2 linked regions of the Homo sapiens genome follow. The protein of the gene in region 1 purifies or fractionates together with the protein of each later gene. This does not show direct contact. Each region holds a gene or a part of one and is shown on either strand. Other genes may lie near its edges. The genes, in order: IL17RD and RELT.

Region 1 (12,419 bases):
TGGGCGAGCGCACGGCCATGGCCCCGTGGCTGCAGCTCTGCTCCGTCTTCTTTACGGTCAACGCCTGCCTCAACGGCTCGCAGCTGGCTGTGGCCGCTGGCGGGTCCGGCCGCGCGCGGGGCGCCGACACCTGTGGCTGGAGGGTAAGGCGAGGGCGGCGGGTTTCTTGCCGTCGCCAACTCGCGGGGGACGCAGCGCGCACAGGTGCTCGCGGGGAGGCGAGCCCGCGCCAACCTGTCTGCTCTTCGCGGGGTCCGCGGCCGGCCTGGGTCTCACTCCTCCCGCGCATCCTCCTGGTTTCCCTCCCCGGACGCGTGTCCTCCGGCCCTGGCCGAGATGAAAGCGGCTGCCCGACCCCGGCTTTGTGTTGCTAATGAGGTGCGGCCGCCGGCCGGGGTCCCATTCAGAGGGCGGGCGTGAGGGGCGGCGGGGCTGGGCCGGGCGCCCCACCCTTTGTTCTTGGCCCGGGACCTCCTTCGTCCCAGGGCTGCGTGTCCCGGGCTGGGATCCCCCGAGCCACCCGGACCGGGTTGCGCTTTGGAGAGGGAAGGGGGTATTCTCCCGGACTTTCAGTCCACAACCCTGCTAAGGCCCGGGCGGCCGGAGAGGGGACTTGGAGCACCGGGGAGGGATGCGCCCCGCTCTTCTAGTAGCTTTGTTCCTCCTCGCCTGGGGCCGTCACCCCACTCCTACCCCTCCTCTGACTCCGGGACCTCCTGAGAAACTTCGCCTCCCGGTTCAGCCCTTCGTCTTGTGAAGGTCTCGCGGCTGATATCCTCCTTCCCTGCTTCGAGTTGCGGATATTTTTCCGCCAAAGGGCCGCGTGGGTGTCATCTGGGTGAGGTGCCTGAGACGAGACTGGAGAGGTGCCCAGACTTTCGCCGTGTGCATTGAGCCGTCTTCGTGGAACCGAGCGCTCCTTTGACACTGTCTGGGCGATGGGCGCGGGTGATTGCCATTCCCCTCTCAGCTTCCCTGCTCCCTACCTGGGCTTCTGGCCTTGGGCGGCCCCAGAACCTGGAGATGATGTCCGTCTGCCCCGAGTCTCCCACCGAGGCCCGGGTGGGCCCGGCGTCAGGGCACTCACGGCCTTAAGCTTGTGGAGAAAACGTAGGCTTTGCACTCAGGCAGCAGGGACATGACCTTGGCTCTGCTCCTGGGGAGCCATGAGCCTCAATTTCTTCATATGAAAAATGGGATGAAATGAGAATTTCCTTAGTATTGCTGGGCTGAGGGATAGGTATGGAGTGGTTTGCTTAGGCGAACGTTGACTCAGCCTCTTCTGGGTGGCTCTAAACAGCCTCAGCACAGCCAAAACCTAGGACATAACACTCCCTTAGGCACGCAGGCTGGTGCCTCCAAGCTCACTTGCCCCACAGTCCCAAGAAATGTGGTGCAGAAAACCAGGTGTGAGCCAGACAGCTGGGATGTCTTCAGACTCAGTAGCTAAGCTATGGAGACGGCTATGACCCCTGCTCTGCCTCCGCCCCCGCCACCCCCTTCCCCCCCCGCCCCCCCGCCCCATTAGGCTCTGTCATTCCTTCCTAGTTGAGTAAAGCATCACATTTTCTTACTGTGTTCCATTTCAGTAAAACATTACTGCTCTTGTTTTATTGTTTAAAAAAATTTTAGTAGCTAGCAAGTTTCCTCAAGGAGGATCTCGTGTTGACTTAAGGATCCTACTAGAATTTTGGATTTAGACTCCTATTGGCTTTTGAATGACTACAATATCACAGGCGTTTTATTTTGAGTGTTCATGTGATGGCGTAGGTAAATCAGTCCGATTCACTGTTTTGCTGCAGTTGCCAAGGTGGCTTCTTATGCCACTGTACAAAACTCGTGAAGTTTCCATGCTGTGGGGTATGGTAGTGCCCTGACGGAGCCAGGCTGGTGATTTTCTTCTACCTGTGCGAGTGTGTTCTCCTCTCCCAAACCTGCACCCTCATAAAATGGTGGCTCTGTCCCAGTCACCTCACACTTATGCTGACGTTTTCTCCACCACAGCCCCTAGTTGGGGGTGACTTTTCTCAGCTGCTCCTGCCTTGGCCCCACCAATCGTTTCCTTGGGTCATCCTCATTCGCCTCCTGGACGATCGTAGAGGCCTCTGGGCCATGTTCCAGATTCCAGGCTCATCCAGGCTGATACATGGTTCCTTGTCTCCTGGATTTGCTGCTTGGTGGATTTCATGGACCCAGTTTCCCCACATGCTTTGCATTCCCACCCTTTCCAGCCTCACCCCCTACCCTTCTCATCCTGCTCCTAACTCCGGATGGATGCCCTCTGTGCTTCCAAGACATGCTTTTCCCTCCTCCCAGGATGCCTTTTCCTCCCTTGAGAATTCCTTGCCTATCTTAAGACTCAGTTCAGGTGGTACCTCCTCAGGGAAGCCCTCCTGAATGCCATGCCCCTTGCTTTACCTTCTCATGCAGGTCCTTGCACTTTAGTCTCATCAGACAGCTTTGTCAGTATTTGTTCACTTCTATGTCTTCAGACTAGTTTCTTTAGCCAGGCACTGAACCTCATCTTGGTGGCGTCAGAGCCCTGTAAATATTGGCTGAACCAAATTAGACCCTGCTGCCTTCCTGCTAAATCCTGTATTTCCTGATAGATTTTAAGAAGTAGAGGCAAAGATCAGGGCATCAAGGTCCATTGTCTTTGCACATGCTGTTCCTGCCTGTGTTCCTTTACACCTCTGCAGCTTCCTTTCTCGGCCCTAGCATCACTTCTGCAAAAAATTGTCCCTGTCCACACCTCCCTAGGTCATGTCTTCTAGAAGTTGCTCTGTCAGGGAGTCAGCTAGGAAGTACTGGTACACAGTGACTAGAGTATTTGATTCATGTTTGGGTCCCCTACCAAATAAGAGGTACTTAGTCCATAGATGTTGGCCTCAGCTCTAAGGTTGCTTACAGTGGGGCTGTAGGAACATAAAAGGATAAGGGTCGACTATATGTGATGCAAATCAGAGGAGGCTTTCTGTGGGCCTGGGCCATACTCAGAACCTGAGAGGGGGCAGCAAGGTGCAGCACCAAGTCCTGAGAAACTGGATTTAGGTGCTGGAGCAGAGCTGAGCAAATGACCCCCTTGATCTCCAGGCAACATTTGTTTCAGGAACCCTTGCCCTTGCAGGAATGTGTATTTTTGCAAGACTTGCAAGGTGACTACAGCCAGCCAACCCTCTGCAGCCCTGCTAACAGACCCTTCGGGGCTGCTCCCAGAGGAGCCATGGGCTGGCCTGGTTTAAGTGGTCAGGTTTCACAACCTCCCCATTATTAGTGGGGCAATTAAGAGGCTGATACCATCTTGAACACAGGTCAGTGTTTTAGAAATGAGTTGTGGGCACACTTCCTCAACTACTTAAAAAAAATTCTCTTAGGGTCCTTGCCAGGTAAGGTTGCTCTTTGAGTAATAAATACTGTGTTCACACAGAAGTAATGATTTGTAAAACCTCCAGAGGGACCACACCATCCTCATTTACACTGGCTCTTGCTTCTAGAGTGGAATGGTTTTGTTTGCAACTAGAAGCAAGTTTGGTTCATAACTTTAATTGTGTCAGTCACTCATACTGAAGTTCTCCCTCCCCTTGTCTTGCTGGTCTAGAAGCCTTTTTATGGAACAAGGAGTTAGGAATCTACTCCCACAGGTTTGTATTTAGTGGCTTTTCCTGCAGTGGGGGAGGAGGGAACATTTCTTGCCTCCTTACCTAAATGGGGTCCACCTTCTCTGGTCTATTATCCCTGGAACATAATTCCTACTCCCCCTGCAAGAAAACACTACTCCTTCAGGAATTCGGGAAGCCAGGATGCTGGCATCATCTTTACAATGAAATGCAAGTTTCCCATTTAAGGCAAATACTTCATCACAAAAGGTAGGAAGGAATAGGGTGGTACTTGGAAAAGAGAAGTTCCAGCTGGTTAAAATTTAGGTTCCTGATAAAAGTCCAATCCAAGAATTATCCTTGGCTGTGGGCCCAGACATGTTTATTTGATTCTGAATTGGATGCATTTTCATTCACTTGCAGCTCATGGCTCCTAAGCCCACATCTGGTCTGCCTATCGTATGGCCATGTTGTCCATGTTACAGATGCTCTTGTGTCTGTTACAGAATTCTTGGTTAAAAAATTACTCAGTCCTGGTTGATACATTTTTTAGAGAGACGTTTTTATAAGCAGTGCAAAGCTTTCTTCCAGCCTGTTTTGCCTAGTTAATTGGGAACTCTTCTGGCCCATGTCCATCTTTCTTGAGCAGCCCTCCCTTCTCTCCCCAACCTCAGCCATCCACCCAACCCCAAGCCCCTGCAGTGCCTGGGGCATTGTGCTAGTTATTAACTTGGGCATATAGCTCCGTGACCAGGAGACCAGCAGTTAACTTTTTCTCCAAGTGACACCCTGGGCCTTCCAGTATCAGAATTGCCTCAGGAGCTTGTTAAAATGCAGATTGAAAGCTAATGGGATCAGAGTGAGAGTGAGGTGGAGCCCAGGAATTGGCATTTTAACAAATTCTTTTGAGGATACGCATGCTGTAACCAGGATGAGACCTATTGTTTTAGGGGACAGGGGTCCCACAATCCAAAGAAGGGGAGAACACACATTCTAAACATTTAAAATCAGAGTTTGGCTTTAAATTATGTCACTGGCCTTAGAGAAGAATGTGAAGACTTTCTCAGAGCCCTGACCGATAAAAGGGGTCAGGCTGGGTGGGGAGTGTGAGGATGGGAGGAGCAGGGAAGCGGGGCGGGGGAGAAGCTAGTTTGGATGGGTGCCTCTGGCCTGGGGCAGATGAGGAGGCCTGGAGTGAAGAGGACTTGACACTTCCCCTGAGTTCCTCCCTAGAACAGCTGGGTTTGTCTGAAAACAGTCTCAGGAAGGAGTAGCACAGGATCCAAATCAGATTCTCAGCAGTTCAAATCTTACAACTTCCCAACAAAGGAAAGAACTGCTAGTGCTTTTAAGTATTTTTCATGCTTCATTTGGCCTAAAACATGTTTTTTTTTTCTTTTTTAAAGCTTTCAAGGCTTTTTCTTCCTCTGTCCCTGAACTTTTTATATACTGTGCCCCAGCAGGTGTCTGCTCCTGCTGGGGCTACCCCATCAACAATTTTATTGTCCTCCTTCATTCCCCGCTGCCTCTTTTTTTGAGACGGAGTTTCGCTCTGGAGCCCAGGCTGGAGTGCATTGGCATGATCTCAGCTCACTGCAATCTCCGCCTCCCAGGTTTAAGCGATTCTCCTGCCTCAGCCTCCCGAGTAGTTGGGATTACAGGCGTCCACCACCACACCCAGCTAATTTTTGTATTTTTAGTAGAGACAGGGTTTCACCATGTTGGCCAGGCTGGTCTCGAACTCCTGATCTCAGATGATCTGTCCACCTTGGCCTCCCAAAGTGCTGGGATTACAGGCGTGAGCCACCGTGCCTGGCCCCCCACTGCCTCTTCAGCCTGCTTCTGATGGATGGGTTTTTAGGCTTCTAGAACTTGAGCCTCCACCCTTGATTTGTAAGAATGTGGGGTGAGGAGAGGGCTCAGCTATCAGGGAGCTTGACAGGTTGAGAGGTGCAGTGGCCTTAGAGCAGACCTCTCTCTGGCCACCCTGCCCTGGCAGCCAGACCTTTTCCATTTCCCATCTACTCCCAAATTTGGAGAGCTCCTGCCCTCAGTCAGCCGGGGGGCTGTCTGTGCTGGAGCTACAGGCCCCATCTCCAGCCAGCCAGACTTGCCCAGCCAGTGGGAGGCATTGTCCTCCTGGGCAGTGTTTGTCTTGGCTGCTTGGATGTTCTGAATGGGCCTGACACACGATTAGGTGACTGATGGCCTCCGAAACACATTGTCTCCTCCGGGGCCCACAGCCTTTGAAGCTCTTCCCGGTGGGAAGTAAAGAGACTATTTGCTCTATTAAAATGCCTTGGTATTTCCTCTGTTTAACCACAGGCCACTTCCCCTCTGCCACTCTAAACCCGGCAGGGCCACCGGCTGATTGAAAAGACACAAGCCCTCAAGTGATCACATCCTATTGAAACAGATAGTCTTACTGCAGATTAAAGCTAGGGCCAGTCTTGAAGAAACAAATCCAAGGGGGGAATCTTTGAGATGGCCCATTATCTTGCTCAGAATTTAGTCTGTTGAACAGAATTCACACTTGAAGTCCTGAGTGCATAAATGTAAATGTGTCTTTAAAAAAAAAAAAAAAGAAGAGATATCGACATTGTAAATTAAGTCAGTGTGTGTTTTATCTATATATGGCAGGTTAAAGCAATCCAATCAACAATTTCTCATTGTGTGAGTTGGAAACCCTTTGGTGTCTGGGAAGGGCATGTTGTCTGTTCATAGAAAACCACACCCTGCTGCTTTCTCTATTTGCAGATTCTACCTGTTCAGTCATATGCTGAAAAGTCCAAGTAAGAAAGAAGTCTGTAGCTTAAATAATACCAAGAATATCTCTGGGGAGACTCCTTCATCCTTTCCCAAACAATATATTAAAAGAAGGCTTTTAATTAATAACACCAGGCAGGAAACTAAAAATTGAACAATTTAAAAAATTACCTACATAACAAAAACTCCATTTGTACCATGTTTTTGTGAAGTGGCCTAAAAAACGAATAACTAGTTTCTAATAGAGACTGTTAACATTGATGTTTGCAACTCCATTGTTCAAAGTATCCATGATAAAAATGGATTCCCTTTTCTTTGGTTCCTTGTTTGGAAATGTTGGGGGAAGGTGGATGTAGCTAATTAAGGCTACAACATTTAAAGGGGGGGACTTAATAGGTACCAGCTGTCCTCAACAAATCACTGGGTGGACGACAAAATAAAGATGTGATGTGAACACACATGTAATTCTCTTCTAAAACGGAAATGGGCTCATAAATTTTCTGATTTAATAGTGTAAATGAAAACTACCTCTACTGTGCTTATTTAAGAAGCATTCATTTTATGGTAAAACTAATGCTAAAATGTCTTATTTGCATATGGCTGGTACCTTAAGACTTGAAAGGGCAGTAGATGGCAAGTATTATTGGAAGCTTAGTAAATTGTAATTTTATTGTACCTTTCTTCATTCCATACCTGATCTAATAGACGTTAATCATGAGGCTTTTCATTAAAACTACTACATGGTAGGGAAGCATGCTTGAACGTACCAGAAAAGCCATATAAAATTCAAGTATCAACTTTGAAAACGGAATGGAAATTGGTAGCATTAATTAAAATGTTTGGATGGATATTTACATTTCACACATTAAATGAATACTTCATATGAATCCTTTTGAAATCATGAGGGATTAGGCCTTAAATACAACTTTTTTTCAGATGTAAAAAGTACTTTATTGCCTTCAAAACTAGGAGTTTTTCCAAGTGTTCTGTTTGGTCATTTTTGTAGATCTTTTCCCCCCATTGAATAGTAACCCTTTAAAAAATGCTGGCAGTGTCCCCAGACTTCTGTGCTGCGATGGACTGTTTTACTCGAGAGTGGGAGGGTTAATGGGATAAAGGGAGGGCTTCCTTGGAACGAAGAGGTGTGTTTTCCTGAGATAGGCCATATGGTTTAGAAACCCTTTCCCTGTGATTTTATTCTGTCCGGGTGATTTCTGGTTTCTTCTCTCCCAAAACGGCCCCCTTTTATCTGAGGAAAATGCAGTGCAGTATGGACCAAATGTAGCAGCAGTCCGCCGCCTGAGCGTGGTCTCTGTTGAGTGACGGTTTATGGCCCCTTCCTCTGGAGTGTGCACATTTGCTCTGGGTGCAGCACAGGCACTCACACGGTTAGGATTTATTGTAACTGTTCAGTATCTGAAGCTCAAAAAGACTTATTTGGAGTGAGGAGGCAGGAGACCCTTTTTTTGAGCAGCCACCCTGTGTTAGGTTGTGGGACCAGTCCCCCGTCCACAGTGGCTGCCTGTCTGGGCCAGGAGCAAGACAAAGGAGTAGGGGCCTGGACAACAGGGAAATTCAGGAAGAGATTCTGGGGCCACAGTACCGAGCACTCCCCGTCCTCTCTCCACACTTCCCTACTCATTCCAGAGAAACTTGAACGGGCTTCTGCTGCTCCTCATCCTAGAACTGCCCCCGTGAAAAGCAGTTTGTTGACATTCAACTGCCTGAGGCCCTGCTTGAGGCCACCTTAGAACTCTGGCTTTTTAGCCCATGTCTCAGTTGGTTCCCAGTATCTCTGGCTTTTTGCTCTGCCTCAGTTTCCCCTGCTTTGGAGGAGGCCCCCTTTTCTCTGTGAGGCTTCTCCATACCACTCTCTAGCTTTCCCATGTGCCACAAAGCCTGGCCGACCCCATCATCCCTCCAGATTTCATGAGAATGTGTCCAAACATTGCAGTGATGCATTGAGAAACAAACAAATTTGATGTTTTTATAGGAAGAAATTGAATTTCAATGGTTCGTGGGAGGCTTAGATGAAGAAGACAGGTCTTACCAAAGGGACTTTGAGCAGGGCCTGACCAGTGAGTGGACCCAGGCGCTGGGGGGACAGTTTGGGCAGAAAGTAAGATGTGGGCAAAGCTGGAGAAGGGGGCTCATTGGTCGGGGGATGGTAAGGTTGAAGATATAGGTACTAGATAACAGGGCACCTTGAAGTTTGCCTGTGTATGTTCTGTCAGAAGTGGTGAGGCTTGGAAGATTTCTCCAACAGGTGAACGGTTTGATAAGAGGGACACTCAGTGGCCATTCATTCATTGAGTGAATATTGGTGTGTTCTGTGTGTTAGGTCTGATTTCTAGAGCTTAGATTTTATTTTATTTCCAGAGACAGGGTCTCTGTCACCCAGGCTGGAGTGCAGCAGTGGCGTGATCATAGCTTATTGCAGTCTTGAACTCCTAGGCTTAGGCAATTCTCCTACCTCAGCCTCCCGAGTAGCTGGGACTACAGGCACGTGCCACCAAGTCTGGCTAATTTTTTACATTTTTTGTAGAGATGGGGTTTTATTATGTTGCCCAGGCTGGTCTTGAATTCCTGGCCTCAAGCGATCTGCCCACTTGGGTTTACAGACATGAGCCACCATGCCTGGCCAGAGCTTAGGTTTTAGTAGGGGAGACAAATAGGATAATGAAGTATCAGACCTGACCATGCTCTTTCCAATAGCAACTTGCTGCTCACTGTCCTCTTTTCTTCACTTTTTCTCTGCCGAACTTTTCACCTTGGGACATACATAGTATTTTCTTTGTCCATCCTTCTTCCCCGTTGCAGTGTCAGCTCCATGTGGGTGGGGTCTTTACCTGTTTTGTTCCCTTCTGCATCACGAGAACAGTGCCTGGCACATAGTAGGTTCTCCATACATGTTTCTTAAATGACTAAGCACTCTACAGGAAATTAAAATGAGGCAATAAGAGCAATGGGTGTTTGCAAGTAGACACTCTCCAATGGCCTCTCTGAGGAGGTGACATGTCAGTCAAGCAACTGTAATAAAAAGTTCCTCTGGGCAAGGAGTGGTGGCTCATACCTGTAATCCCAGCATTTTGGGAGGCCAAGGCAGGCGGATCACCTGAGGTCAGGAGTTCAAGACCAGCCTGGCCAACATGGTGAAACCCTGTCTCTACTAAAAATACATAAATTAGCTGGGTATGGTGATGTGCACCTGTAATCCTAGCTACTCAGGAGACTGAGGCTGGAGAATCACTTGAACCCAGGAGGCGGAGGTTGCAGTGAGCCAAGATCGTGCCATTGTACTCCAGCCTGGGCAACACAGCGAGACTCCGTCTCAAAAAAAAAAAATTTCCTCTGAAATTGCTTTCTTAACATTGGCTAATCATGTGGCAGTTAGTGCTGAGAGTAGCATAAAAAATATGCTTAATTTATTCATTCACACCACAGTTATTGGCACTCCTGCCAGGGGCCACATACTGGTTAGAGGCTGGGCTTCAAGCCAGGTTCCCACTCATGACAGGGAGAGTGTGGGCTGGTGTTGTGTGGGAGCCACACCTGGCCGAGTGTCTGTTGCTTGAGGGGGTTGCTTGGACTGTCTACTTTACCCTGTGCTGTGGATGAGAAAAATGTGAAAAGTTACTGCTAAGCACTAACTAAGCATCCCGGTTTTGGACTTTCTGAAACGATGTGAACGGAACAAATCTCACTCCCTGGCAGCAGCCCTCAGTTTGTATGAAACTTTGTCTTCTTAACAGAGGTGCAGGTCTCGTTTTTGTTTGCTTCGTTCCCCTCTGGTGGTGAATGCATTTCATTTTCTGAAGCCACTTGAAGGTCTGTCCATAATCAGAGGTGCTCTTTGCCTTCTTTCCGGGGCTGCGGATTTGCCGGCCAGCTGTGGAAATGAGTTTTTGCCCGGCTTTGATTTTCATGCCTTGCCTCCCCGTGGGAGGAACTAGATATTTCTGATCTTACCTCTGCTCATATTCAGATCCAGCCAAGCAATCAGTGACTTCCCGGGCTTTTTTGTGGGAGACTGTGGGAAAAGTCCTGGTTGGCTGGCTATGAATTAATGAAATCCTTAGAAGGCTTCACTAAAGATAGCTCCTGTGGCTTACAAAAAAAAATGGCATTGCCTTTTTAATTTGAGAAGGACGTCATGGAGTTTTACCAAAATTAAGCAGAAAAAATGTAACATCTGGTTGTGCTGGCGGAAGACTGCTTCAGGGCCTCTGGAGCTATGAGTTCCCAGTGCTGGCATGCCCAAGGTGACTGTCACCTGCCCCTATAGTGCTGCTATGGACAGGCCGCCTCTCATTGTTCTCCTCCTTGGGTTTTGAAGTCATTGAGAGACAAATTCTACCTCCCACATCTTTTCACTTGAGCACATTTCCCATCTACTGAGCTTTCTTATTTTACTTAAAGGGTCACACATTTTTAAAAGTACAGAGTTTTCGAGTTGATCAAGACTAGTGTAATCATTGCTTTTATCTCATTAAAAAAGGATGGGGGTAGATAATGGGGGCAGCAGGCCAGCGAACTTTTAAAGAGTTCTAAAAAGGAGAGTGAGAATGGTAAATTGCTGGAGAAGAGTTTTAGGGAAAGGCATATAGGAGATTTTAAATGGATTTATGACGTGTATGTATGTGTGTGTGTGTGTGTGTATATATATATATATATATATATAATTTTTTTTTTTGAGACAAGGTCTCACTCTGTCACTCAGGCCGAAGTGCAGTCATGCAATTATAGCTCGTTGCAGCCTTGAACTCCTGGGCTCCAGCAATCCTCCTGGCCCAGTCTCCTGAGTAGCTGGGACCACAGGCGTGTGCCGCCAAGCTTGGCTATTTTTTTACTTTTTTTTTGTTAAGACAGAGTTTCACTGTGTTACTCAGGCTAGTCTCGAACTCCTGGCCTCAAGCAGTCCTCCTGCCTTGGCCTCGCAAAGTGCTGGGATTACAGACATGAGCCACCATGCCCTGCCTAGAGCATACGTTTTCTGAAACGATACAGGAAGATGAAGTTGTTGCCATCCCAACCCCCCAACCCCTCAAGCAGGCAGCTAGTCACCTGTACAAAATACAGGTATATATAATATATAAAATGTAAATATAAATGTATATAGTGTGTAAAATGTATGTATATAATGTATAAAATACAGTCACCTGTATATTAGAGTCCCTTACAGCCCCACATGGGGATTCCCCATTATTGTGCTCTTTCTCCCATCCTTTGTATTCTGAAAATTTTCGAATCTGTAGAAGAATTGAAATAACAGTAAAATGAACACCCATTTCCCCTTTGTCTAAAGTTACCAATTCATAACGTTTTGCTACACTTACCTCACTTGTCCTTTTAATGTCATTCATAATTTCTTTCTGCATCACATTCTAGGGGGCAGAGAAGGGTCACTCATTGCTTTTTGATGTCCTGTCTCTTTAGCCTCCTTTAATACAGAACAGTTCCTCTACCTATTTTTCGGTCCTTTATAGCCTACACATTCTGAAGAGTCAAGGCCACTTGTGTACACAATTTGGATTTTTGATTGTTTCCTCATGAATAGGTTCAAATATTTTGACAAGACCCCTCTAAAGGTGATATTGTGACTTTGTTGGATTTTACATATCAACTGGTAACAAATGTAGATGCAGTTTTAGCAATAAGAAAAATTTGTTTTTTCTGTGTGAAATTGTTGTATTTAGAGATCTGTGCTAATAGTAGTACCCAGTTTAGTCTTGTGTTGTCTTTTTAAAAATGCAGTGTTTCACATTAAGCCTTCCCTTTTACTTTATTGAGAGTCTAAGGAAATGCAGGATGTCATTTGTGCTATCCTGTAATAAACTTTTTCCTTAAAGATTATTTGAAATCAACCACACTGTCTCAAAATGAGGAGTGCTATTTCTCAAGAATGCTCAAGGCTTTTGCTATTCACATGGGCTTGTTGCAGTTATAGATGTCGCCCTCAGAGACGGGGAATGAGTTCCTATTAAAGACCTGTGTTTGGCCGGGGCAGGTTTACGGTTGACTGCTTCCTCACACCAAAATTCAGCCATTTCTTTCCTT
Region 2 (12,419 bases), on another chromosome or scaffold:
GAAAGACCCGGGGTCACTGGGGTCACGAAGTGCGTGGCTTGGGGCGTGACCGGCGCAGGGCCAGGGCCACCCGTTACTGTGAGTGTGAAATAGAGGGAGAGGAGCCCAAGTGACTGAGAACGAGCCGAGCTCGCTGGCGCCATGGTGTGCGTGTGGGGTCAAGTGGTGTCAGTGTGTGTGTGTGTGTGTGTGTGTCTGCGCCTAGGGTGATGATGAGTAAGAGGCAGGAGGAGGAGGGACCGGACCTAGGACACCTTCCGGCAGATGTGGGGCGATGAGGAAGTTGGGGAGCCAGGAGACAAGGGTCTCCAGGACTGTCCCCACGAGGGCACCCCTCAGGAGTTCAGCTTGGTGAGGAGATGGACCCTGAGGGATAGGCCCTGGCTGAGGGAGAAAGCCGAGGCTGGGCAACATCTGGTGGGGTGGCCCAGATGGCAGCAGGGTAGGGGCCCTGTGGTAGTCTCAGCTTCCCCCCGCCCACCTGCATCCACACACTCACGCATCGAAGTCCCTACACCTGGCAAAGTTCTGCCCCTGTGTAATCTGTATTCTCAGCGGACCCGGACACAATCTTGTTCTCAGACCCCCCCGCCCCCCTCCCCCGCGCAGGCCTCAGTCTCCCCATCTGCACACTGAGGTGCTGGGCTTTGAATGGACTGTGAATCATCACTTTGGGATCCTCTATTGTTTTGGGTCAACTGCCTGTGTTCTCCCTTCCCTTCAGGCAGAAAGACTGCAGTGGGGGGTGGGGGCAGGCTTCTCCTGGGGACACAGCGGCCCAGGGGCTGCACTCAGGGGCTACTGATAGGGTTGGAAGCACAGCCTTCTCCAAAACTGGTCAAGGAAACGTTAGCCTCCCACCCAAAGGCTTCCTGGTCCTCTGTCACGAAATGGATCCATAGACAATATGGATCCCCAAATCCATAGACATTCACTTCTCTGCCTGGGTGTCCTTTCTTCAGTTCCTTGGGTTGGGGGAGAGTGGGGAGAGACTTGTTCCCCAGGAGTGGTCTCTGGTCTGGGAGGCTAAGTTCTTGCTGGAGAGCTGGAGCGGTACCCTTTCGCCATCTGGGCAAGACCCTTCTGAGGCCCCTTCTCCCGTATGAAGGTCTGTGGGGTTCATGCAGGGTGGGGTGGAAGCTGAGCTCCCTAGTCTAGGAGAGGGTGGCACTTGCTGTAGAATCTGGAAGTTCTGTCTTCTGCTGTCGTCCTCTGAAAATGCTGATTACATTCTAGGGGTGGGGGACAGGGTGGGGGACAGTGTCAGGCACTGTTCTGAACACTTCATGGTGTTCTGTCTTGTTGAATCTTCGCAGTGATTCTGAGATGTAGTGACTGTGTTTCAGAGAAAGGAACTGAGGATCAGAGAAGCAAAGTGACTTGGCCAAGGTCATACAGAGTCAGGACAGTGCCAGGACTGGAATTCAGGTCTTCTGACCCCAGAGACCAGTGAGATGCTGGGAGAGAGGATCACCCACCTTCCTAATAACTGCTCATGGCTTTCCTGGACTTCTGTCTCTCAAACTTGGGCTAGTAGGCGTGGCCTAGCCAGGGCATTACATTGTGAGTTCTAAGTATGATGTGTGTGTGTGCACACATGTCTGGAACACTGGGGATGGGTGGGTTACATGGTCTTCCTGTTCCTCCCCAGACTTCACTCCCAACCAGACATCACCAGAAAGTCCTGTCCCCTGCCTTCTAGAGCCTGGACCTGGCTTTGGGGGTGTCCCCATGGCTTTGAAGAGTGTATGGAGTTAGCAGCACAGCCTAGGGGTAGCAGGGAAAATTGAGAGTCCCAGGTGACCTTCATCATACTTGAGAGGCCCCCTCCCCTTTGCAGTTGCTCTAGAGGCATTTCCCCAAATCCACCTGCATGTTATGGTGGGGAGCAGACAGGGAGTGACCTTGAGCTGGTCCCTACTCTCTCTGGGCCTCGGTCTCCCTGTTCTTCCCAGAGACCCCTTTTGGCTCTGACCACTGTTGCCACTTGGCCAAGAACTGGAACTGGGGATCAGGGTGTCCCTCGGTCCTCTCTGCAATGACTGGAGCTGTGCTTCTTGGGGCTGATGAAAATAGCTGTCGTGGTCTCTAGGGGCTGAGCCGGAGTTATTTCCATCCTCAACAAAGAGGTGGAAATAGCTTAGGGCCTGGGAGGGGGAGCAAGAGGAGAAGGGTTAACTTCTCCTTATCCCAGCCTTAAAGGAGGCCCCCAGCCTCAGCCTGTGCCCTGGCCAAGCCAAACCTTTCTGGGAACTTGGGCCTCTGGGGATGACAGTGGGGCCAGGCTGGGTTTCCACTTGTGACCACAGTTGGGACTGGTGTGATAGCTGCTGGAGGGAGGGCCCTATGTCTAGCCAAGGAGGGGAGATATTGAGGGCCAGTCAGCACCTGCCCCTACTCATAGGGTCAGGCCCAATCTCATTTCACAGAAGGAGAGATTGAGGTTCTGAGAATTCAGGGACTTACCCTAGGACTCCTAGAACCTTCACCTTCCAGACGCGGTACCTGCCTTCTGTCCTGAGTTTGTCATTCTGTGTCCACACTTTCCCTGGCGGCTGGAGGTTGGCCAGCACTGGAAGCAGGCCCAAGACACACCTTCTGGACGTCGGCCTGCCTCATATTCCAGCTCTGGCCTTGCCATCCCTGCCCAGGCTCTGGTTCTAGCTTCTGTGCTTCCACGTCGGCTCTCCCGCACACTGCCAGAGTGACCTCCATAAAATAACTTGCTTTTCGCCTACAAAGTGTAGTTCAAACTCCTCACCTGGCAATGAGGCCTTTCCTTCCAAGGCCTTTCAGAATTTGCATCTTTACCCTCGCCTCTCCTTGCCAGATGCCTTGTCTGCCTTGCCTTTGCTTTTAAAGCTTCCCTCTTTCTAGAACCCTCTTGGCCATCCAGACTATAGCCCCAGCTCCACCTCACCCAGGAAGCCCTCCTGGCCCGAAATTAGTCTCCCTTCATTGTTGTGGGCCACCTGCCAGGTGTCCTCCCTCACTGCTGGGGAATGGGCACAGGTTTGGGGCACCTGTGGGTACCGCATGCTCAGCTTGGTGGGGCCAGCGTGGCCAGTAGCCCACCCCCTCCCACTGCCGTCTCTGTGCTGACGAGACCTCTTCCTGAGGAAGGGCAGCTGCTCTAGGATCCCAGCACCTGTGTGCTGGGAGGCACCGGGAGATTTGCACCCAGGTCTCTGGTGCTCACCATGACCTGAGGCAGAATGTGTGCTGGCGGGTGGGGGCAAAGACTCACGGCCACTCCTGTGGGTAGGGGGCAAGTGTAGTGCTTGTCATGGTCCTCGACATCTTGAGCCAGTAGAGGCAACTGTCCCTGCTCAGGCCCTGTAGTGTGCCAGGCTCTGGGCCCAGCATTTCCTCACAACAGCACTCACCCGGGCCCTCTCCTTTCCAAGTTGGTATGGGGGAACCTCGACTCAGAGAGCAGCCCTAGGCTGAGTCACGCAGCCACTTGTGTTGTAGTCAGGTACTCCAGATCCTACCCAGCCCCCAGCCTGGTCTCCAGGCAGGAGGTGAGGGTCGAGGGGTTTGTCTGACAATTCTAACATTAGTTTCTCAAGAAGGGCCAGGCTGGTCAGCACCCAGTCTGGCTGGGCGGGACCTGACTACTTCTGTTATGGGGCCAGCCCTTCTGCCAGGTCAGCAGGAGAGAGGACCAGAGAGGAAGGGGTTTTGCCTGAGGTTACTCAGCAGGGTGTGTTTGGCGCCATTCCCCACTCAGGATCGATGGGGGAGCAGGGATGTGGTCTCTGGACAGGGAGAATACCCACTGTGTGCTGAACCCGTGTCTTTCTGGGCCTAGGCTTGGTGCTGCTGAGTGGGGCTGGAGTGGCAGAGAGGACAAGAGCCAATGCTGCATCCCTACTCTGCCCATCCGTGGGATTATGGCCCGGGAGGCTGTCACATCCTCAGCCTTATACTCCTGGGGGTCATCATTCCCTCCAAGCACAGGCAGGGAAACCAAGGCCTAGAGAGAGGAGGCACTTGCCAGGCCCCAGTGTCACTGGGATCCAAACCCAGGTCTGCTGGCCTTGAAGACCAGAGTTCTTTCCTAGGCCACTCTGGGAAAGATGAGAGCTCTATAAATAAGCTGCCCATGTGGCTGTGAGCAAGTGCCCTGGCTAGTTGTCACAGACAGAGGGGGACAGCGGGACCTCTACAGCCAGTTAGAGTCAGGGTCTGAGTGTGCAGGTAGAGAGAGGAGTGGGGGCTTCCAGAGGGGGGACCTGCGCTTAGCCCAGTGCATGCACTGTGAGGAGGAGCAGTGAGAGGGGAGGACCTTGGCCACCCACACCACCAGCCTGCTGCATGCCTGGCCTCCTGCACAGACCCTTTCCCTCCCTCCCTCAAGGAGCCTCACCCCTTCTCGAGGAATCAAGGGAGACTGAAAACTGATGGCAGGGGTGAGGGGTGGGGGAGTCTGGAGAGGAGAGGGGGCCCTCTTGACAGGGAGGCTGGGGAGGCTTCCTACAGGAGGGGATGCCTGGCCCAAGGCCTGATTGTAAGAAGAGCCCCTGTTGCCTGTGAACGCTGAGTCCTCCACCACACCATGAGGTCAGCTGCACTGGTGTAATTGGGAAACAGGCTTGGGAAGTTGGGGCTGGGTTCCTGACTGCTGAACTACCCCTTACATTCCTGACCATGGCCCTGGCTGGTGTGGGAGCAGGTGGACGTAGGCCTGTACAGGGGCTGGGACATGGGCACCCAGGGCCCTCCCAGAGAGGCCGAGGCCCCTCTACTTGTGCTGCCAGGGTTTACGTGGAGTTCCCCAAAGCACTCTTGCCACACCCAAGCCTCTGGGTGACCTCGGCTGGCTGTTGCTTGGTCCTGAGCTTGGGTTCCTCTGGCCCTCGTGGAGCTGTGTTGAGAGCCCTCAGTATCCCATGAGGCAGGGACTAGCACCCCTGTTTGCAGAGGAAGACCCCGAAACTCAGGGAGGGTAAGTAACCTGCCCAAGGCCATCGATCTGCGAAGTGACAGAGCCAGAGTCTGAACCCTGGTGGGTTGCTCCAGGGCCCAACCTTGTCTCCTCCCTGCTCCACCACTGCACTTGCACTGACCCCAGTCCTCAGCGTAGCTCCACTGGGTAGGACCTGACCTGGGATGGCCCTGGGGGCGCCTCTTTCCCCAGCACCGCAAGTCTGGGGAGAGTTGGAGAATGGGGCAGACCAGGGCTGTGGTCTCCCCCAAGTCCCTCCCAAAGCCTCTGCCCAGGTCTTCCAGGTCAGGGTGATTGGGGGCAGGGCCCATGCTGAGCACATTAGGGACTTGGGATCAGTTTTATGGCCGGGGCAGGTGGCAAAGGTGGCTTCTTGGAGGAGGTAGCAGAGCATGAGCCGGGGCTGCAGTGAGGTGTCCTTCAGCACCCCCAGACCCGTTGCTGTCCTGTCTCAGGGCCAGGGTTGGCAACACAGGGCTGTCTGTGGTGCTGAGAGGTTGACGGTGGCCAGAAGCAGTGGAGATACCAGGCCTGGGTGGCTCAGGCAGGGGTCGCCTGCCAGTTGCCCCTACTCCAGGGTAGGTAAACTTCATCTCCTTCAAGGTGAAGTTGTTACAGGCTACCACTTGACCTCTCTGAGCCTCAGTTTTTTCTGTGTGAAGCATGGAACACTGTCTTTGAGGGGTTCAGTGAGACCCAGCTTAGAGTGGGAAGGGGACAGGCAGTAGTGCTCAGTGAGGAGGGTTAGGGAGCCTCCTCTCTGCCCGAGATAACTGTCTGGTCTCAGACATCCCTCCTCTAGCCCCAGACTCGGCCCAGGAAGTGGGGCAAGGATTGCACCTGTACCATACCCAGACTGGGAGGAGCTGGGTGGGCCAGGTGTGGCCACCTCAGCCCTTTTCTTGGCCTCAAGGGGCCAATTTAGCCCCCTTAGCCTCAGCCCCACCCCATCCACCTGAGCCACTGAAACCCAGGCCTGGTGGCAGCCAGGAGGTCTGAGGTGCAGAACCATGCCCAACTTCTGGGGGTGTTGCTGAGAGTGGGCTGGGGAGCAGCTGCTGCCTGGCCTCGAGGTGCTCCCCAGCCCTTGAGGGACTGGTTTATACCCCATCGTGGTGACCTGGGAGCTCATGGCTGCCCAGGGCTGTGGGAGGGGGCAGGAGTGGAGCACCTGTCTCACTGAGTGGCCCTGAGCCAGCCTCTGCACATCTCTGAGCTTCCAGCAGCAGCCCTAGTAAGCTGGGGTTCCACCCTGGGACCTCTTTTTCCCCGCTCTGGGAATTCCCAGACTTCCCCGGTCTTCCTGCCTCTTTCAGTTCACAGCTCCCTTTCCTGCCAGAGCTGGCACAGACTAGAACAATATGCAAATGAGTATAGATGCAGGCAACTCCTAGAGGCCCCATGGGATGGCGGTGCAGACAGCACCTTCTCCTGGGGCCCTCCTGGGTCCTTAGTAACAGACCCTCAGTTGAGCCACCTACTGGGTGCTACTAGCTTGCTAGCCTCCACCATCAGGTTGGCAAACACTGCAAGGACATTTACTATGTGCCAGGTCCTGGGCTAAGTTGCAGGGCAAAAGGAGGCAGAAAAGAGACAGTCCTGGGCTCCATTCCTGCTTCATCTCTTACTGGCTGTGTGACCCCCGCCAGTGACCTCCCCTGACCTCAGTTTGCCCAGCTGTGAAACAGGAATGCTCACTTCTCCTGCAAGGAAAGGCAGCAACCCAGGATGAGGGCCCGGCCTGCACAGGGCTGGGGTCCATTCCTTTCCCTGTGAGTGTGGAAGAGGGAAAGCCACTCAGCGTGGTCGCTGCCCTACTTCAGCCCCACTTGCCAGGGAACCGCTGGGCTCCTTGCTAACCTGGATTTCTCTGTTGATGGGTGGCCTTTGTCTTCCTGCCTTGGGTGTGGCCACCGCCAAGGGAGGCCTGTGTCCAGCTGTGTTTCCAGGCAACCCTAGCCTCTGGAGGCCAGAGGGAGGTCCACAGGCTCAGGAGCCACTATCTGGGAAGCAGAGTAGCTGCCTCCCTACCTGCCCTCCTCCAGGTGGGCACCAGCCCCCACCTCCATCTCCCCCAGTGCGGCCTCTCTTAGCAGGCAGCCTGGGGAGCCTGCTGAGACCGAACTGTTCATTCTTCTCCATCCCTTGCTTAACCCTTCCTGGCTCCCATAGGCCCTAGGGGGAAGTGCAGGCTTTTTGGCAGGCAGCTGAGCCTTGGTGTGACCTGAGCACTGCCCACCAACCTTCCCAGACTCCTCCAGACTCCTCCCGTCTTCTCCGCCCTCCCACCCTCCAGATTCCCACCAGGGCGAACCCAGCACCGCCTGTATACCAGACTCTGTGCCAGGCACTGAACGTAAATAAAAGGTTTGTGCCCTTCTCCTCCACATTCCACACGTAGGGAAACTGAGTCACAGTGAAGTGTGGGGAATGCTTACTCTGTGCCAGGCCTGTGCTGAGTACTTAATGTGATTCTCTTCTTTCAGCCTTACCACAGCCCTCTGCAGGCAGGCCACAGAGCCAGTGCAAGACAGAGCAGAGCAGGACTGCACCCCATACTTTGTATCCCCAGGTTAGCCCAGGGGTTCAGATCTGGGTTCTGACCCACCCCAGCCTCTGGGCTCCTTCCCCCTCAGCCTGCTCACTGGCTCTTCTAGCTCGGCATAGCTGGGCTCTCTACCAAGAGTGCCTTTTCTGCCTTCTCCCCCAAATCAGCCCATACCCGCCCAGGTCGGCACTGGGCATGGAGCAGGCAGCTCGTGGTGGGGAAAGGGCTGGGTAATAGGATCTGCATGGCACCATGAATGCTGAGGGGGAGGTGGGGGAGAGGGTACTTCCAGGAGGAAGTGACTTCGAGCTGAGCTCTAAGGAAGAGTGGGTGCTGGCCAAGCGATGAGGGGAGAGCAGAAAGCAGGTGCAGCGTGTGTGAGGGTGGAAAGCACTCAGCGTGGCAGGCGTGTGGGTGGGGGAGGTTGGTGGGGGCGCGTCACGACGCCATCCTGAGGGTGGTGGGAGCTGGCCCAGGGCCAGGGCCAGAACTGGGTGTCAGGGCACCTAGGCTGCAGGGCGGGACTGACCTGGAGGCCAGAGACAGGGCAAGGGGGCAAGAGCAATGGGCGCAGGCCTTGGGAGAGCTTAGGGACTGTAGGGAAGGGGAGGGCCCTGCCTAGGGGAGGGGGAGTGGCGTGGCAGGGCCCGGGTGACCCCAGCGAGCTTCAGTTCTGGGAAAGGGGAAGCTGCCTGTGGCCTGGGCTGGTGGCACAGCTTCCTCTTTCTCTGAGGCCTCCAGGCTGCACCTCCCTGGGGCTCCACCATCTGTGGCCTCAATCGTGGTCTGGGGCCCTCAGCTTGGGGGTCTGGCCGTGGCCTTTGCTAGTTGGCTTTTCTCCAGGGAATTTCTGGTTCTCATTGTTCGGGCATTTTTTTGGAGAGCTGAGTCTGAGGAAACCCTCCCCGCCTCGTGAGCCTGCTTGGAGGCCTCCCGCTTCAGACATGGGGCTGGGTGTGGAGTTTTGTGGCAAATAAAACAGACGTCCCTGCCCTCACCACTGTCTGGTGGGGGAGCAAGGAATAAACAAGTAAGCAAACAAATACTTAATCACAGCCCTCTGCCAGCAGGGCAGAGGAGAAGGGCTGTGGAGAAGGAAATCCCATGACCTACTTTAGCTTCATTACCTCCTTTAAACCCCATGACTGGCTGGGCACAGCGGCTCACACCTGGAATCCCAGTACTTTGGGAGGCCAAGGCGAGAGGATCGCTTGAGCCCAAGAGTTGGAGACCAGCCAGGGCAACATAATGAGACCCCGTCTCTACAGAAAATAAATTTAAAAATTTAGCCAGGCATGGTGGGGCATGCCTGCAGTCCTAGTTACTCAGGAGGCTGAAGCAGGAGGATCACTTAAAAGTTCAAAGTTGCAGTGAGCTGTGATCGTGCTACTGCAGTCCATCCTGGATGGCAGAGTGAGACACTGTCTCAGAAAAAACAAAACAGAAATTCCCCAAAAACTTCGCGACAGCCATGCCAGCAAGATGAACGTCCCCATCTCTGTAGATGAGAAAACTGAGACCCAGTGATGTGAAGGTCCCAAAGGGAGTTGGTGGCAGTGGAGACTGGGCCCCAGGCTAGGAGACATGGGAGGAGTGGCCTCTAAGCCAAGTTCCTTCTCTGCTACCCCCCTGGGGCCCCTCCTCCCCATCCAGTGTGGCTGGGTGTGGCTCTCCTCTGTCAGGCATCGGAGGCTCTGGGGCCTCACTGACTGCCCAGCCTTTAGGATGAGGCAGAGACGGATATGGGACCTTCAGATATCCCCTCCCAGCCGAGGGGGCTTCCATCTAACTGTTTTTTTGGTCACGGTTCCAGGGCCGTTTTAGACAGTGGAGGCCTTGTGGGGCAGGGTGTGAGGGGTGCTGAGCAGCAGGTGTGGACATGTGTGTGCACCAGGCCTTTCTACCTGACCGGGCAAGTCCAGTGGGGGCTCAGTCTGGGCTGAGTGTGGGGGCCGGGCAGCCAGACTGGAGTAAGTGCTGGTTTGGGGTAATGAGAAGGTGCGTAATTAGAAGGTGCAAGGCCCTAGGTGGCAGTGTCTATGCGTGTGCTGGAGTGGGCCCTCGTTGGCTTTGAGTCTGGGCCTTTGGACCCCGCTTTCTTCCTGGAAGGTTCTAGATCACACAGCTCTGCGTCTGTCTGCAGATGAGCAGCTGCACAGCTGCTCCCTGTGGGCTCAGGTCACCTAGCAGGTGCCACCCAGGGTTGGGGTGGTTCTAGGGCTCTCTGCTGTGGTTGCTTGGCCTCTTTTCACCCCCGCATCAGCCCTCTGGGCCTACCTTGGGGACATGGAGGGCTGCTAGAGCTGGGGGCTGGGCTGTTGGGTTGGTCACGGTTCCCCCTGGCTTTGTCTTTTTTTTTTTTTTTTGAGATGGAGTCTTGCTCTGTCGCCCAGGCTGGAGTACAGTGGCACAATCTCGGCTCACTGCAACCTCCACCTCCCAGGTTCAAGCGATTCCCCTGCCTCAGCCTCCCGAGTAGCTGGGATTACAAGTTGTACCACCACACTGGGCTAATTTTTGTATTTTTACTAGAGACGGGGTTTCAGCATCTTGGCCAGGCTGGTCTTGAACTCCTGACCTCGTGATCCACCTGCCTCTGCCTCCCAAAGTGCTGGGATTACAGGCGTGAGCCACCATGCCTGCCACAGCCTGCCCCCACCCCCAGCATCAGGCTCTGTCTTGCGTAGTCAGGCCTAGTGGGGAAGTGAAGCCTGAGGACTTGGGGCTCGTGGTCAGGTCTGTGGGTTAGATCCCTCAAAGGACAGAGGAGGGGCCATGGGGAGACAGGCTCGAGGTGGGAGCTGGGCCCTGACAAGGGCACAGGACACTTTGGGGCAGAAACTGGAAGGAAGACTTGTGACCAAATTTAAGGAGTGACAGGGGACCCTCCCCAAATAGCCTGGGGGTGCCATCTGTTGGGTGTTGACTGCCAGGTGTGGCCTCCACCCTATACTGTGGCCCTACCTTCTCCTGTCCCTGGCTTTCCCCTGAGCTGGCCTGGGACCCAGAGTGGCTGCCAGTGACCTGGAGAGTCCTGAGATGATGTAACTGCTGCCCACTCCCTCCCCTGAGTGTAACTCAAACCCTGGGCCCCTCTGAGATCTGCCAAGAGGGAGGGCGGGTGGACAGATCGGTTTCCTGGGCTGCTATTCTAGGTGGGAGGGCCGGGCTGCCTGCAGGGAGAGGACTCTGAGTGATTTGGGACTACCACAGGAGGCGCTTTTCTCACCTCACCGGCCTTGGAGTCACAGCGGGGGCCTCAGCCGCGGCGGCCCTGAGCCAGTGGCTGGGTTCCCAGGCTGCCCCTGGGCTTAAGAGGCTGCGTGTGGCCTGAAGAGCACGGCTTTCCTCAGCCTCGTGCCCCTGAAGCCAGGCCTCCAGGAAGTACACAGCGGACTTCCTTGCTCTGCCACCTGTCCCTTCTGCTGTCTGATGTGAATCCTTTGTCCTGCTGTGTCCGCCTCGTCCACTGGCCGGAGGCTTCTCCAGAGCAGGCCACCGTCTGGGCCTGGGGGCCTCAGTCTCAGACCGGTGGGCCGTGACGCCACCATGGATATTTCTCTGAAGTATCACACACTGCACTCCCACTCTGCTTTATTTCGTTTCTTGGCACTTACCACCAAATGGCAGGGGCACCTCTCTGTTTGCAGTTGGGTCTCCCCTGGGATGGAGCTCCCTGCAGACAGGGACCTTGTCTGTCTTGTTCATACCGATTTCTCCAGTGCCCGCACGCAGTAGGTGCTGGAGAGATGACAAAGACAGAGCACTGGCTGCCGTGACCACCCCAGCCCCATAGGTCTGCCAGGGGAAGAGCTGTGGCCAGACATGTTCCAGCCTCAAGGGAGGAGTCAGCCTCCCTGGAAGAGGTGTGGACAGTGGCCATGCAGAAGGACCAGGACCTAGATGGGGTGGGGAGCTGTGGGAGCCAGACCCACTTTGGGGAAAGCTTCTAGAGAAGCTTCTGGAAAGAGAGGCCTTCGTGTTGAGCTTTGAAGGGTAAAGGAAAAGGCCTTCCTTGGACCAGAACCAGCAGGAGTGAAGGCAGAGGCCGGGCATGCTTGCAGACCTGTGAGGAGGAGGCGGGGGGAGCCTGAGCCTGGAGCGCTGGGCTGGAGTGTGGAGGCCGGGCTGGGGTGTTGGGTGTTGGTTGCAACCCTGTCATCACGGACACAGGCCGCCACACGCGCTTCCTTCCCCTGCTGATGCCTCGGGGCACCTGGCAGTTTAAGGAAGGGGAAGGAAGCCCTTCCTCCTCTGGGAAGCCTCCCAGCCTGCAGAGCCTTCTTCCTGCCTTCCTGCCTGTGCTGCCCCGTGAGGCCGGCTCCCAGGCAGGGCAGCCCCCTCTGCTTGGGCCTGTGCTTGCGGGTGTGGAGCCGGCCTCCCCGGGCTCTGCCTGCCCAGCAGCACCTTGCCTGCTCCCCATGAGTCCTGTCATCCTGGAAGTGGTGCTGAGGGGACAGCAGCTGCCTGCCTGTCCCTGCCGCTCTGCCGAGCCTCCTCTCCATCTGCCCTAGGCCGGCGACCACCAGGGGCCTGAGGATGAAGCCAAGTCTGCTGTGCCGGCCCCTGTCCTGCTTCCTTATGGTGAGCTGGGGATGGGCCCTGGGAAGGAGAAAAGCCGCACCCTCAGCCCTGCAGCCCTCCAGCAAGAGGGTGCAGACACTCCCGGGGAACCCCCTGCTGGGCAGGGCTCAGTTACTCAGCTCGTCAAGAATCTGAGGCAGCTGGACCCTAGGAAGCACCTCTGGGCCCACCCAGGCTTGTCAGGGAGATGGAGAATGAAGGGCTTGCTGGCATTTATGGGCAAGGCAGGCATGGCTGAGGGCAAGATGCCCATTGGCACGCAGGCATGAGAACGGAGCCCAGCCCAGAGGGTATGCTGGGCACCAAGAGGAAACTGGGCAAAAGAGGCCTGGGATT

What was found.
Region 2: the proteins of IL17RD (region 1) and RELT purify together in Homo sapiens (affinity purification with mass spectrometry; 2 studies listed by BioGRID and IntAct, with this or other methods). This does not show direct contact.

The regions. Positions count from the first base shown.
Region 1 is NC_000003.12:57,152,885-57,165,303, reverse strand, and holds part of IL17RD (interleukin-17 receptor D isoform a precursor), read left to right. Parts: 5' UTR 1-17; coding exon 18-143; exon of another isoform or gene 144-336; coding exon of another isoform or gene 337-378; intron 379-11,248; exon of another isoform or gene 11,249-12,419. UniProt on the Homo sapiens protein: Feedback inhibitor of fibroblast growth factor mediated Ras-MAPK signaling and ERK activation. Regulates the nuclear ERK signaling pathway by spatially blocking nuclear translocation of activated ERK without inhibiting cytoplasmic phosphorylation of ERK.
Region 2 is NC_000011.10:73,377,099-73,389,517, forward strand, and holds part of RELT (tumor necrosis factor receptor superfamily member 19L isoform 1 precursor), read left to right. Parts: intron 1-12,013; 5' UTR 12,014-12,038; coding exon 12,039-12,083; intron 12,084-12,091; exon of another isoform or gene 12,092-12,419. UniProt on the Homo sapiens protein: May play a role in apoptosis. Induces activation of MAPK14/p38 and MAPK8/JNK MAPK cascades, when overexpressed. Involved in dental enamel formation.